Homo sapiens: one gene and its partners. The protein of the gene in region 4 purifies or fractionates together with the protein of the main gene of each other region. This does not show direct contact. Each region holds a gene or a part of one and is shown on either strand. Other genes may lie near its edges.

The links. The genes of interacting proteins can lie anywhere in the genome.
Region 1: the proteins of PWWP2A (region 4) and BRMS1L purify together in Homo sapiens (affinity purification with mass spectrometry, with the first as the bait; one large-scale study listed by BioGRID). This does not show direct contact.
Region 2: the proteins of PWWP2A (region 4) and LIN9 purify together in Homo sapiens (affinity purification with mass spectrometry, with the first as the bait; one large-scale study listed by BioGRID). This does not show direct contact.
Region 3: the proteins of PWWP2A (region 4) and EZH1 purify together in Homo sapiens (affinity purification with mass spectrometry, with the first as the bait; one large-scale study listed by BioGRID). This does not show direct contact.

The regions. Positions count from the first base shown.
Region 1 is NC_000014.9:35,864,338-35,867,837, forward strand, and holds part of BRMS1L (breast cancer metastasis-suppressor 1-like protein), read left to right. Parts: intron 1-597; coding exon 598-662; intron 663-1,384; coding exon 1,385-1,424; intron 1,425-3,500. UniProt on the Homo sapiens protein: Involved in the histone deacetylase (HDAC1)-dependent transcriptional repression activity. When overexpressed in lung cancer cell line that lacks p53/TP53 expression, inhibits cell growth.
Region 2 is NC_000001.11:226,285,165-226,288,664, forward strand, and holds part of LIN9 (protein lin-9 homolog), read right to left. Parts: intron 2,634-3,500; coding exon 2,500-2,633; intron 1,295-2,499; coding exon 1,169-1,294; intron 1-1,168. UniProt on the Homo sapiens protein: Acts as a tumor suppressor. Inhibits DNA synthesis. Its ability to inhibit oncogenic transformation is mediated through its association with RB1. Plays a role in the expression of genes required for the G1/S transition.
Region 3 is NC_000017.11:42,710,541-42,714,040, reverse strand, and holds part of EZH1 (histone-lysine N-methyltransferase EZH1), read left to right. Parts: intron 1-651; coding exon 652-832; intron 833-1,555; coding exon 1,556-1,752; intron 1,753-3,500.
Region 4 is NC_000005.10:160,090,839-160,093,144, forward strand, and holds the end of PWWP2A (PWWP domain-containing protein 2A), read right to left. Parts: coding exon 1,544-2,306; 3' UTR 501-1,543; downstream 1-500. UniProt on the Homo sapiens protein: Chromatin-binding protein that acts as an adapter between distinct nucleosome components (H3K36me3 or H2A.Z) and chromatin-modifying complexes, contributing to the regulation of the levels of histone acetylation at actively transcribed genes.

The DNA of each region.
Region 1 (3,500 bases), on a different chromosome or scaffold from region 4:
CTTAGCCTCAACCTCTCGGGCTCAGGTGATCCTCCCACCTTAGCCTCCCAAGTAGCTGGGACTACAGGCACGTGCCACTCGCCTGGCTAATTTTTGTATTTTTTGTAGAGATGGGGTTTTGCCGTGTTGCCCAGGCTGGTCTTGAACTCCTGGGCTTAAGCCTGCATTGGCCTCCCAAAGTGCTAGGATTGCAGGCATGAGCCACTGTGCCTAGCCTCGTATACTTTTTAAAAACATTTTTAAATGTTTCCAAAATTGGAGTGTAAATTAATACGTATATTCAGTTTCGGCATTCTCTATGGTACCATCCCTCTACCCCCATCTTTTCCCCTCCACCTTAAAAACCAGTGATTGTGTTAGTGATGTATATTACAATCAATGATATCATGGAATTAAGGGCATGTAGTTATGACATCAGAAGTACTAGACTGTATTTATGCTGGTACTAAGTGGTTTGAAGAATAATTTGAAGTCAGAATTTAGGATGCCAAAGCATTATGCTCATAAATCATCGTTCCATTTTCTGAAATGTAGTACTTTGGAAATATAATTCAAAGTGTGATATTCTTACAGCTAAATTGACCTTGACTATTCAACGTCCATATATAGTTTATATGCTACAAGATCTTGATATTCTTGAAGACTGGACAACAATTAGGAAGGTATGATTAATGAGCAGTGGAACACAAGTATGTTTTTATAGTCTACTTTTTAAGATTCTATGTTTTTTTTGTTAGTACATCAAAATATTATTGTAAATATGCTTTGCTTTTGCAACATTTTTCTAAGGCAATTTAATACTATTACAGATAGCAGTGAACTACAAGGATATTTTAAGAGTTAGAGACATGTCAGCAGTTTGATTGTATTTTTTCTATAATAATGTAACTAATAATTTATGGAAAAGTCCAAAAAACATTTATTTAGTCTGCCCAAAAATAATAACATCACCATCTGTGCCTAGTCCTTTGGCTGGTCCTGGCTTATAGAAAACACTTGATAAATATTTGTTGAACAAAAGAACATTTGAACCCTTATGTGTCTTGCATCCTATCATTAAACATTCAAGAATCATAGGCTTTTCTTTTCTTGCCTGAAAGTGGAGGCTTGTTTTCCATATTACATTTTTTCATTTTTGTAAATTTCTTAGTTGAGAATTAGAGATTATTTCAGGTATTGAAAACACCTCTAGGAGAAATTGTTATCCCTCATATTCTTTATGGTCTTAGACATTAAAAATTTGTTAGAGCAGCTAATGGTTATACTTTACTGTCTTTGTTATGGAGTTAATCGGTAATATTGTATATATTAAATAGATACCAAAATATATTTTCAGTCTGAACTCAGACTTCTTTCTTCCTCTTTTTTTTTTTTTTTAATTAAGGCAATGGCTACATTGGGGCCACACAGAGTGAAAACGGAACGTAAGTCATTTAGTCTGAGTTGGGAAATATTCTCTTTGGAGACTTGTTGAATCAGGGTTGTTATCTACGTACTAAAGAACTCTTGAATCAGTGGTTTTATTTCATCAGTGAACACCGTGCCTGAAATTATGAGGAATTCTTCTGGAGTCATTGCTTCACGTAAAAGTTTCAAAATTTCTGAATGTGGTATAATTATTTCAGTGTTCAGCTACATTCTTATTGCTAATAATGGATCAGTAACTCAAAAAAGTATTTATGCAGTGTTTTTTATGGGCTCTGTCATTCTATAGGGGAGGTATTTGGAATTTGTGGATTGGCTTCAGAGATTCTGTGAATCCTCTGAAATTATGTGCAAAATTCTGCATGTGCATTTTCTGAGGAGAGAGATCAGAATGCTGATATGCCTTAGTAAAATTCATATCAAGTTACACTTCCTTGATTTTTTTTTTGGAAGTCTAAAATCACTGCCAAAATGTGATGGTGTTTAGGATAAGTTTCTCTGTTTCTGCCTTCTTTCACTATAGGTGAGATTTCCTAATCCTTCTAAGGACAATGAAGCTAGACTAAAAAGAAAAACATATTTGAAATACTTAGGAAAGGAATTTCTAGTCACATTTAAACAGCTTAAGTAATCGATAAGAGACCAATTTCTGTTTAGGCTGGGCATGGTGGCTCATGCCTAGCATGATCCCAGCAATTTGGGACGCTAAGGCAGGAGGATCACTTGAGCCCAGGAGTTTGAGATCTGCCTGGGCAAGATGGCAAGACCCCATCTCTACAAAAAAATACAAAAATTAGCCAGGCTTGGCGGTGTGTACTTGTAGTCTCAGCCTCTTGGGAGGCTGAGGTGGGAGGATCACCTGAGCCCTGGAGGTCGAGGCTCCAGTGAGCCATGATCACACCACTACACTGGGCAACAGAGCAGGATTCCATCTCTAAGAAAAAAAAAATTGCATTTTATTTTTAACCCCATGATTCCTTTAAACTTTTTATTTTGTGAGGAAATTGCAGCAGTATTTGCCCTGGGGAATTAACTGCCAGAGCAGCTGCCTAGACCTGTAGAGCAGTGGTTCTTAACATTTTTGGGTAATAGATTCCTTTTGAGAATCTCATTATCATAGTTGAGTGTGTCTCCCTCCCACTCTTATCTTCAGCATTGTATCCTATTAGTTTTACTCATAGCACTTCACTCAATTTGTACTTTTTAATTTTGTCTATCTCCTGACTGGATTGTAAGCTCCACAAAGGCTAGAACCATATCTCTTTTGGTCACAGTTTTTTCCCCAGCATACTTCCTTGTGTATAGGAAGTGTTCAGACAACATTTGTTGAATGAATGAATGAATGAATGAATGAATATACCCGATGGTATTTTAGGCCCTGAGAATACAATGGTAAAAGAAATATGGATCTCCTGGAGCCTCTTTAGGGGAGGTGGAATCATATATATGTAGATAAACAGTTAAGAAGATAGTTACAGATTATAATAATTACTCTAAAAGAACTGTGCAGTTGATATAACAATTAGCTGAGGAGTGGGTAGAGTAGTTAGGGAAGACCTCTCAGGAGCTGACATTTGAATGACTTCATGGTATGCTTTTGACACTGTGTTTCCATAAAAAAGATTTTTTTTTCCTGTATGAGTTATCTGACTAATGCCAGATGATTTCTGGAATTTAAAAATAGAAGTTGTACTTAGGACATTTCCTTTTTAGAATTAAAAGCCTGGGGAATGCTTGGAACATGTATTAAACTCTGCTTCTTTCGGTATATCAGATGCCCGCAGGGGAAAAAATAAAAAGTATAATTTTCAATTGAAATATGGCAATTGATATTTTAAATACTACTTAAAATTCACACTAGTAATTGATAACATACCTGCTTCCCCTTCTGGTACTTAATTAGTCAATTGATGATTTATTGTTCATTGTTTAGCTTTGTTTAGTAGTTATATTAAAAACTTAGTGATTATGTAAAAGAATGTAAGGAATAAATCTTTTTATTACATTTTAGGTTTGTTATTTAAGAAATATTTTTAGGCCTTTTTTACATATGCATGGATTGATGTTAATTGTTA
Region 2 (3,500 bases), on a different chromosome or scaffold from region 4:
ACAGTAAATAGTGACCAATATCCCACTCTGATGGACAATAATTAGAAACAGTGTAACTCAATTTGCTCAAACACGCAAAATGATAGCAAAAAGTCACCAAATGGCTACTGTAATTACCAAAGGCCATAAATTATGAGTATGAAACACACTAAATAACATATCAAATTTTAATTTTGTTATTATAAGAAATATTAAAAACATCATCATCAAGGTCATCTTGATGACAGTTTAATTAAAAGTTCTCTCTGTATTTCATCACCATCTAAAGAAATCATTAAATCTAAATTCCATTTCTATTTGTCCAAATCACTTTATATTTACAGACCTTCCTTGAACTTTCCCACCATTTAAAATGAAAAAGTCTTGCACATACTTTTTACCAGGCAGATAGACATAATGTGAGAACTAATGATCTAATTATTCTTCTAACATATTTCCAATTTTCACTCAAAAGTAATATAAGGTTTTCCAATGTGTTACCAGGATAACACTGGAAAAGAAAAAATCATTTCACATGAAGAGCAATTCTCAGGAAGTAACATATTAGATAGATTAATTTGTTTTCTACTTTTATATAAAATAAAATAGGCACTTCTGGGAAGGCTCCTGAGATTATAAAGGATTTCACAAAAGATAACAAAAATGTACACAGAACTTTACAGCATCCTTAAATACTTTTTAGGACATTCTTAAATATTTTTTGGAACACAGAGGGACATAGATAATGTAAAACTAAAAAATTACGTTGAAAACCTGTGATCCTAACAAAAATGAAATTGTGCATTTAATTATAAGATGCATACGTATAAACAGCACCTACATTAAAGTTGGTTAACAGGATATATTTAACATATAATCAATTATTCTGAAAAGTTATGTTTTGGTACTAGTCATTTTAAAGATTAAAAAAATCAATGTACTAATGATACTAACAACTATTATTTATTGATTTTATTTTTTAATTCTTTTTTAGAGGAATGGTCTCACTGTGTTGCCCAGGCTAGAGTGCAGTGACTATTCACAGGTGTAATCACAGCATACTACAGCCCTGAACCCCTGGCCTTAAGCAAATACCCCATCTTAGCCTTCCAAGTAACTGGGATTATAAGTACATGCACTGCTACTGGCTTGATTTTATTTTAAACAAAAACAAAAACATTATTTTTACCTCCGTGGTTTTCCCATAAGCCGCCGAATTTTTCCCCATTCTACTCTTGTTAACTTTCTTGTTTTCAAATTAGGAAAAGATTCCTTTAGACATACACAGAAGTCATTATCACCTTCAAAAAGTGGTCTGTAAAACAGATATAGTATTTTAATGGTTACATACAATGTGTTACTTTCTTAAAACACATAAAATCACAAAATGCTAAACTTTCACTTCTACCCCATATATATATATAAACTGGCACAAATTCAAAGTGCTAAAACTAAATCCTTGGCATTTGTGAAACATCTAATGTCGTGTAAAAGTTGCTCAGGAAATATTATTTGTGTTGTGATTCCAAGAGACACTGATTTTTGTTCAATCTCTTATACAGGTATATCCTTTGGGAGGCTATCGTGGCCCTGGCCTTGTATCAGGTGAAGATAAACCAAGTTAGCTACAAAGTATCTTTGTCCCAAAGGAATACCATCACCAAGGAGTCCTCTTTGGAATTAAACCAGTCTTGGGACACTGGAGGACTCCAGAGGGTTAGATTAGCTTGGGGGATCCCAGAAGAACTCAGATTACACTGAGACACCCTGAAAACTCTCTTAAGCCTATGGACAAAAATAAAACAATTCTATTCATGAGTCTGGGAAACCAGGAACCAGTGTTGGCAATGATACATAAATGCCTTGGGCTCAAATATGAACATTCATGAGATTCACAAGCTCCAGAGTAGGCAATTGGTATAGAAAACAGAGAAGGGAAGAAAATATAAATATCCAGCAGAGCAAGCAGCAATGACTGGCATATGAGGAAGGATTATAAATAAGAACTTTTCCTCAGTAAATTCCATTGTTGAATAATTGTATTTCAGCCAAATCTCATACTACGTCATACTTAAGCATATGTGTATACCTAGCGTGCTTAAGTACCACATCCAAACTAGAAAGACTACCCTCTTAAAAATCTTAAGCCATTTTTACCATTAGTAATGGTTTCTCTATGATTATACCAGCACTTAACATCTCAATTATAAAATGAATCTCATTCACTGCAAATAATGGTGTTTTAAGGTATCTCTACTCCATAGTCTTTAAGAATTCTAACACAGAAATTATACCGTAATCAATTCTTCACAAAAATGTACAGTTTTCTTCCCCAAAAAGGATAACAGGGAAGAAAACTATGACAAATAGAATAGATCCAACTGGAATGTGGAACAGAAAAATGAATTTAGAGAAAAATAAGATCAAAGTAGACCTATAGAAAATGTTGTAGCTTAAAACACTTGAAAAACTTAAATTTCTGATTCAAGTAATATTCATAATATAAGCCATGATACATACTTATCTATATTTGAATAGAACCACTCGTATATACACCATTTATGTGCTTTAGGAAGCTTGAGCAGATTACGTAATCGAAAACCAATCTTCTGTGAAGCTTTCTTATCTGGTGTTGACATTGTTGCTGTAAATTTCTATACAATAAAAAAAAGAGATTAATTTATGGCTCCATTAAGTAAAAATGAACATTTATAACCCTGAATAAATTTGCAAAAGGTAAATTATGTTTAAGTACTTAAAAAGGTTCACTGATTCACTGATATTCAACATGGAATTTTGTTGCTGTTTTAAACACTCCGATTATTTTTGATTATTGCCTTTTTTTTTTTTGACAGTCTTGCTCTGTTGCCCAGGCTGGAATGCAGTGGCACAATCTCGGCTCACTGCAACCTCTGCCTCCCGGGTTCAAGCTACTCTCTTGTCTCAACCTCCCAAGTAGCTGGGACTACAGGCGCACGCCACCACACCCAGCTAATTTTTGTATTTTTAGTAGAGATGGGGTTTCACCATGTTGGCCAGGCTGGTCTCAAACTCCTGACCTCAGGTAATCTGCCTGCCTCAGCCTCCCAAAGTGCTGGGATTACTGGTGTGAGCCACAGCGCCCAGCTTAGATGGATACTTTTTTAACCTAATAAAACATTTCTCCCCACTCCAACCCAAAAACCAGTATCGTAATATTAAAAGACGATGAGAACGACAAATATTTCAACTACCACCACTAACCTAGTATGACAAAGATTTCAACTACCACCACTATTTCATAACACTGTTTTGAAGGAATTGGCCAATCAGGTAAGAAGAATAAAATTTAGAAAGAAGATAAAACTACCATTTCCTTGTAGGTGAAAACTCAAGAAAATCAACTGTAACAATTAAAAACAGTAAGAAAATTTAATGAAATGGGTAAATACAAAGTTGATATACAAAAACCATGATTCAAAAAAATCACTATATGTAAATAATAACTGGACAGGCCATAAGAGTTTATATCCTGTTTATAA
Region 3 (3,500 bases), on a different chromosome or scaffold from region 4:
CATTACACATTTTATTAAGGAAACAGAGAAAGTGTGGTAGACTGGAAAGAATAGTGGCCTAGGGAGACAAGGAGCCCTGATTCCTATACCCCTCTGGAACTATTAGCTGCATACTCTCAAGCTAGTTTCTTCCCCTCTCTGAATCTCATTTCTTCATCCATAGGAGAATGTGTTCTCAAATTCCAAACAAGTAACACGCAAGTTAATTTTAGATACAACTCACTGGAAAATTGAAGACACAGATGCATAGATTATATCTTTTTTAAGATTATAGGACATTAGCTGGGCATGGTGACATGTGCGTGTGGTCCTAGCTACTTGGGAGGCTGAGGCAAGGGAATCACTTGAGCCCAGGAATTCGAGGCTGCAGTGAGCAGGCCTCTGCACTCCATCCTGGGCAAGAGAGAGAGACCCTGTCTCAAAAAAACAAACAAACAAAAAAACATTATAGGACAACTCTTTTGTGAAAAAGTACGTAAGTTTTGTTAAGCAGCTCTCATTGTTATATGATCATACTTATTATATGGTACAGAGAAAAAGAAAAGACACTATTATTGTAGACAGATGTTGTAAAGATGAAAGTTTGTGATGATGAGATCAATATGGTGATGGGCCTGTTCCTATTTCCTGTCTGTAATGTGTCCACTGCAGGAAGGAGCAAAGGAGTATGCCATGCTCCACAACCCCCGCTCCAAGTGCTCTGGTCGTCGCCGGAGAAGGCACCACATAGTCAGTGCTTCCTGCTCCAATGCCTCAGCCTCTGCTGTGGCTGAGACTAAAGAAGGAGACAGTGACAGGGACACAGGCAATGACTGGGCCTCCAGTTCTTCAGGTACGATGAACAGAAAATGAAGACTTTTTCTTTCCATGCAAGGACTCTGGTAAACCCAGGATCACTGCCTGACACTTAACTTTACTACCTCTTAAAAATTATAAATTCTTTCTACAAGTTTTGTAAACAGTAAAGATGGGGAATATTTTCTTTTTTTTTTTTTTTTTTTTTGAAACAGTCTCTCGCTTTTTTGCCCAGGCTGGAGTGCAGTGGTGCTATCTTGGCTCACTGCAACCTCCACCTCCCAGGTTCAAGCGATTCTCCTGCCTCAGCCTCCCAAGTAGCTGGGATTACAGGTGCCTGCCACCACGCCCGGCTAATTTTTATATTTTTAGTAGAGACGGGGTTTCGCCATGTTGGCCAGGCTGGTCTTGAACTTCTGACCTCAGGTGATCCGCCTGCCTCGGCGTCCTAAAGTGCTGGGATTACAGGCGTGAGCCACCCTGCCTGGCTAATTTTTGTATTTTTAGTAGAGACAGGGTTTCGCCATGTTGCCCAGGCTGGTCTTGAACTCCTGAGCTCAAGCAATCCACCCACCTCGGCCTCCCAAAATGCAGGGATTACAGGCGTGAGCCACCATGCCTGGCCTAAAGATAGGGAATATTTTCATTCCTAACTGTTCTACCTTTTAAAGTAGAATGAAGTACTTCTGAGTTTGTGACAAACTACTGATGACAACTGCATTCTACCTTCTTCTGATTCTGTTATTTCTTCCCTTCTCAGAGGCTAACTCTCGCTGTCAGACTCCCACAAAACAGAAGGCTAGTCCAGCCCCACCTCAACTCTGCGTAGTGGAAGCACCCTCGGAGCCTGTGGAATGGACTGGGGCTGAAGAATCTCTTTTTCGAGTCTTCCATGGCACCTACTTCAACAACTTCTGTTCAATAGCCAGGCTTCTGGGGACCAAGACGTGCAAGCAGGTACCATCTGGAAGCAGCAGAACAAATGGGCCCCTCCTTTCACGCATTGCTCTGTCCAGCCCTTTGCCATCTTACCAGGCTGTGTGTCTGGGTCTGGAGAGAAGTTGTCTTAAGTTCAGTCCCTGATGAGCCTGTGCTTCTGTGAGTTTCCCAAACATGGCCCTTCTGCAAGTGCCAGGCCTAATGATGTTTGGGGACCCGCCTCCTCCTTGCTGAATGCTCATTTCTGTCTGGACTCTATTTAATGCTTCTGGGTCCTACACTCTTTCGCTTCTTTTTTTTGGCTCTGGCCTCCTTTCTAAATGTGTACCCCTTTCCCAGAAGGGACTCCCAGGTCTTTCTGTGGCTCTTGTTAATGAGCACACTGCTGCTGCTGCTGCAGCTGCTGCAGCTGCTGCTCCCTCCACCACTCCGCCAGCCTCTTCAGTCATTTTATTCTCCACATTTTCTATCACTAGATTATCTTTATTTTGTCTTTGAGACAGGGTTTCACTGTGTCGCCCAGGCTGGAGTGCAGTGGCATGATCATAGCTCACTGCAACCTCCGCCTCCTGGGCTCAAGCAGTCCTCTCCCCTCAGCCAAGCAAGTAGCAAGGGACTACAGGTGCAGGCCAGTATGCCCAGCTAATTTTTTTTTTTTTTTGAGACAGAATCTCGCTCTGTTGCCCAGGCTGGAGTGGTGCAGTGGCATAATCTTGGTTCACTGCAACCTCCGCCTCCCAAGTTCAAGTGATTCTTCTGCCTCATCCTCCCAAGCAACTGGGATTACAGGTGCCCACCACCACACCCAGCTAATTTTTTTTGTTTTGTTTTTTTGAGATGGAGTCTCGGTCTGTTGCCCAGGCTGGAGTGCAGTGGCATGATCTCAGCTCACTGCAGCCTCCGCCTCCCAGGTTCAAGTGATTCTTCTGCCACAGCCTCCCAAGTAGCTGGGATTACAGGTGTGCACCACCACGCCCGGCTAATTTTGTATTTGTAATAGAGACGGGGTTTCACCATGTTGGCCAGGCTGGTCTCAAACTCCTGACCTCAGGTGATCCACCCGCCTCGGCCTCCCAAAGTGCTGGGATTACAGGCATGAGCCAATGTGCCTGGCCATTTTTGTATTTTTTTTTAGTAGAGATGGGGTTTCACCATGTTGGCCAGGCTGGTCTCAAACTCCTGACCTCAAGTGATTGGCCCAGGAAAAGACAGGAAAAGACCACAGTGAGAAGACAGACTGAAGAACAGGGACAAGGAGGCAGCTGTCAGGGCCAGCATGTCCAACAGGAAAGGAACCCCAATGCTTTGGCTTCCTACCTTCTGGAGGAGACTCTGTGGCCTCTTCTTCATGCTTCCTGTACTGAGAACAATTAATAGAACCATGGACTGGGCAAGGTGGCTCACACCTAGAATTCCAGTGCTTTGGGAAGCCATGGTGGGAGGATCGCTTGAAGCCAGGATTTCAGGACCAGTGTGGGCAACAAAGTGAGACCCCATTTCTACAAAAAAAAAAAAAAAAAAAAAGCCACGTACCTGTAGTCCTAGTACTCAGGAGGCTGAGGTGGGAAGATGGCTTGAGCCCAGGAGTTCTATACTACATTGAGCTATGATGGCACCACTGCACTCCAGCCTGGCCAAGAGTATGAGACCCTCTCTCTTAAAAAAAAAAAAAAAAAACAAACAAAAACAGAACCATGAGCTGAAGTGCCCTTTGCTTTCATTTTGGAGCTCATACCTATTTCCCTGATCACAGGTTCTCAACGTAA
Region 4 (2,306 bases):
ACTTGCCTCCACAGCCAATCAGATATATTTCTCACTACTAATACAAAGCTAAAAATGGAAAATAAGAAATCAAATCTTAGGGACAGATGGACCATGTAGAAAAATAGTAAGCTAAGTTACTAGCCCCAAAAGCAGTGATACATGAGGCAGAAAACCAAACAGAAGAGACCGGTTGTAATTACCCGAATGTAAAAAAAGGAAGCATGTGATGAAATATTAAGACTAAAAATTAAAATTCACACATTTATGAGAAATTGGCAGGAAGGGGATATCAAATCTAAAAGCATTATCAAACCTCTATACTACAAAATCTTATTTTGAGAATATACTGATTCATCTCTCATTATTTGAAGTTTTCTTATCTCAGATAATATATTCCCTGATAGGGCAAATAGCAAAATAAAAGTTTGATTTTTCATCTCTTCTAAACACTCTTACAAAGAATAATTTTCTACCATCTTGAAATTTTTCAAAGCTTTTTGAGAAACACACACAAATAATTTGGATTTAGTTGATTTTATTTACAGCTTTTTTTTGGTTTTTTTTTTTTTTTTTACATTTCAGAGCATTACACAATTACATTTTCTCATTTTCTGACCTGCAAACAGATACCTTAAACGGAAATTATTTTGTTTTAATTATCAAATTAGGTACATCCAAAATGCAACAATTACACATATGACAATTAATTCACAAAGTATAATTTTACTGGGACATATCCTAAGAATTTAGGAACAGCCAGTCAGGAGAAATCTGACCAAATTTAGCAATCACTATTTACAAATCCAAAATCAAACCTATCTAAACTCCCAAACCAGAAGCTTGAAAGTATTTATTAAATCCCCACTGGACGAAAGACAGTGATGACTAACACCTATCCAGTCTTGACAGTTTTAATCCCAAACACTGGGCTATTTCCCCAGTCTGTAACTGAATTGCAACCATCTGTTTGTCAAACACCTAACCATCTAACTTTTACACCATTATGCGCATAGAAAGGCTAAGTGTTCATTATTTAAAAAACAAGTAGTCATTAAATATCCACTATTCCCCCAGCTCACCAAGCCCTTATTGCAATCCCAAATATGCAATCTGTGTCACACAGTGACAGGCTGTATTTCATATATATATATGTGTATATATACATATATATGTGTGTATATATACATACACGGATATATATATATACACACACACACACGTATATATATGTATATATACAGTATTAGGTACAAATGGCAATTAACAGTCCCTACAAAAATTCAATTTCAGTTGAGGCTATGGCTCCTATGCCTTGGGATGGTTTCGAACTTCAAAACTGAAAAATACTGCTAAAATCTCACTTCCTTAACACAAAATTTGATTATATGTTCAGTTTAAGCTCTCAGTCTAAAAATGGCTATAAGGTAAGTATTAAAAAGCCAGCCAACTGAGTGCAACTTCTCTCTCCAATCTGGCCACGCTATTTTGTAGAAATTATTCCTAACTAGACTAGAAAATCTGTGGTGACTTCCAATGGTCTTGCCTACCTTACTGCCCATGTTCACGTTTCAAACTGTGTCAACAAAGCCCGCACTTCGGGGGTCAGCTGCTTGGCAGCCTTAGCTGCCTCTGTGATAGCCTTGCGATACAGGCCCTTTCTCTTCTTATTAAAGCGTGACTGGAAGTTTTCTAAAAAGGGGGAGAGTTGTGAAAGAGCAAGGAAAGATGTTGTTGGAGACCCAAACCATGAAATACGGGCCTCCTGTCGGACTAAAAGGCCGTTATCTTTCCGGCTCACAGTTATAGTAAGAATACGGGCTGGCCACCAAGGGAAGCCATATATCTTGGCCCAAACAATGTCCCCTACACATATGGTCCTGCCATCTGGTGTGACGCATTTAGAGACGTTTTTGGAAAAGACTTTCATTTTCAAGGAATTACTGAGCTTTTTCTCTTCCTTTGAAGAGGAGGAAGTGGAGGAGGTGGAAGGTGCATGCATACTGCCTGGAGGAAAATCAAAGCTTTCAGAAGAACTACACTCAGAGTTGGAAGATTTCAAATCATCTGTGCTATCAATGCTACACACTGAAGCACTGGAAGAGTCAGATTTCTTTTGATTTAGGGTCATATAAACAGAGATATTGTTTTTGCTGCCCTTTTTGCCCAATGTCTGTGGTTCATCCTGATCACCAGGCACATGCACTTCATTTGTGTCCTGAACCTCACTGCTGGCCTCTTCAGGGCCTTTTGAGGGACTCTGATTTTCTGAAGGGGCCTCACCTGCTGAGCGGGTAGAGGTGCAGCGAGACTGGGGCTTGGGTGCC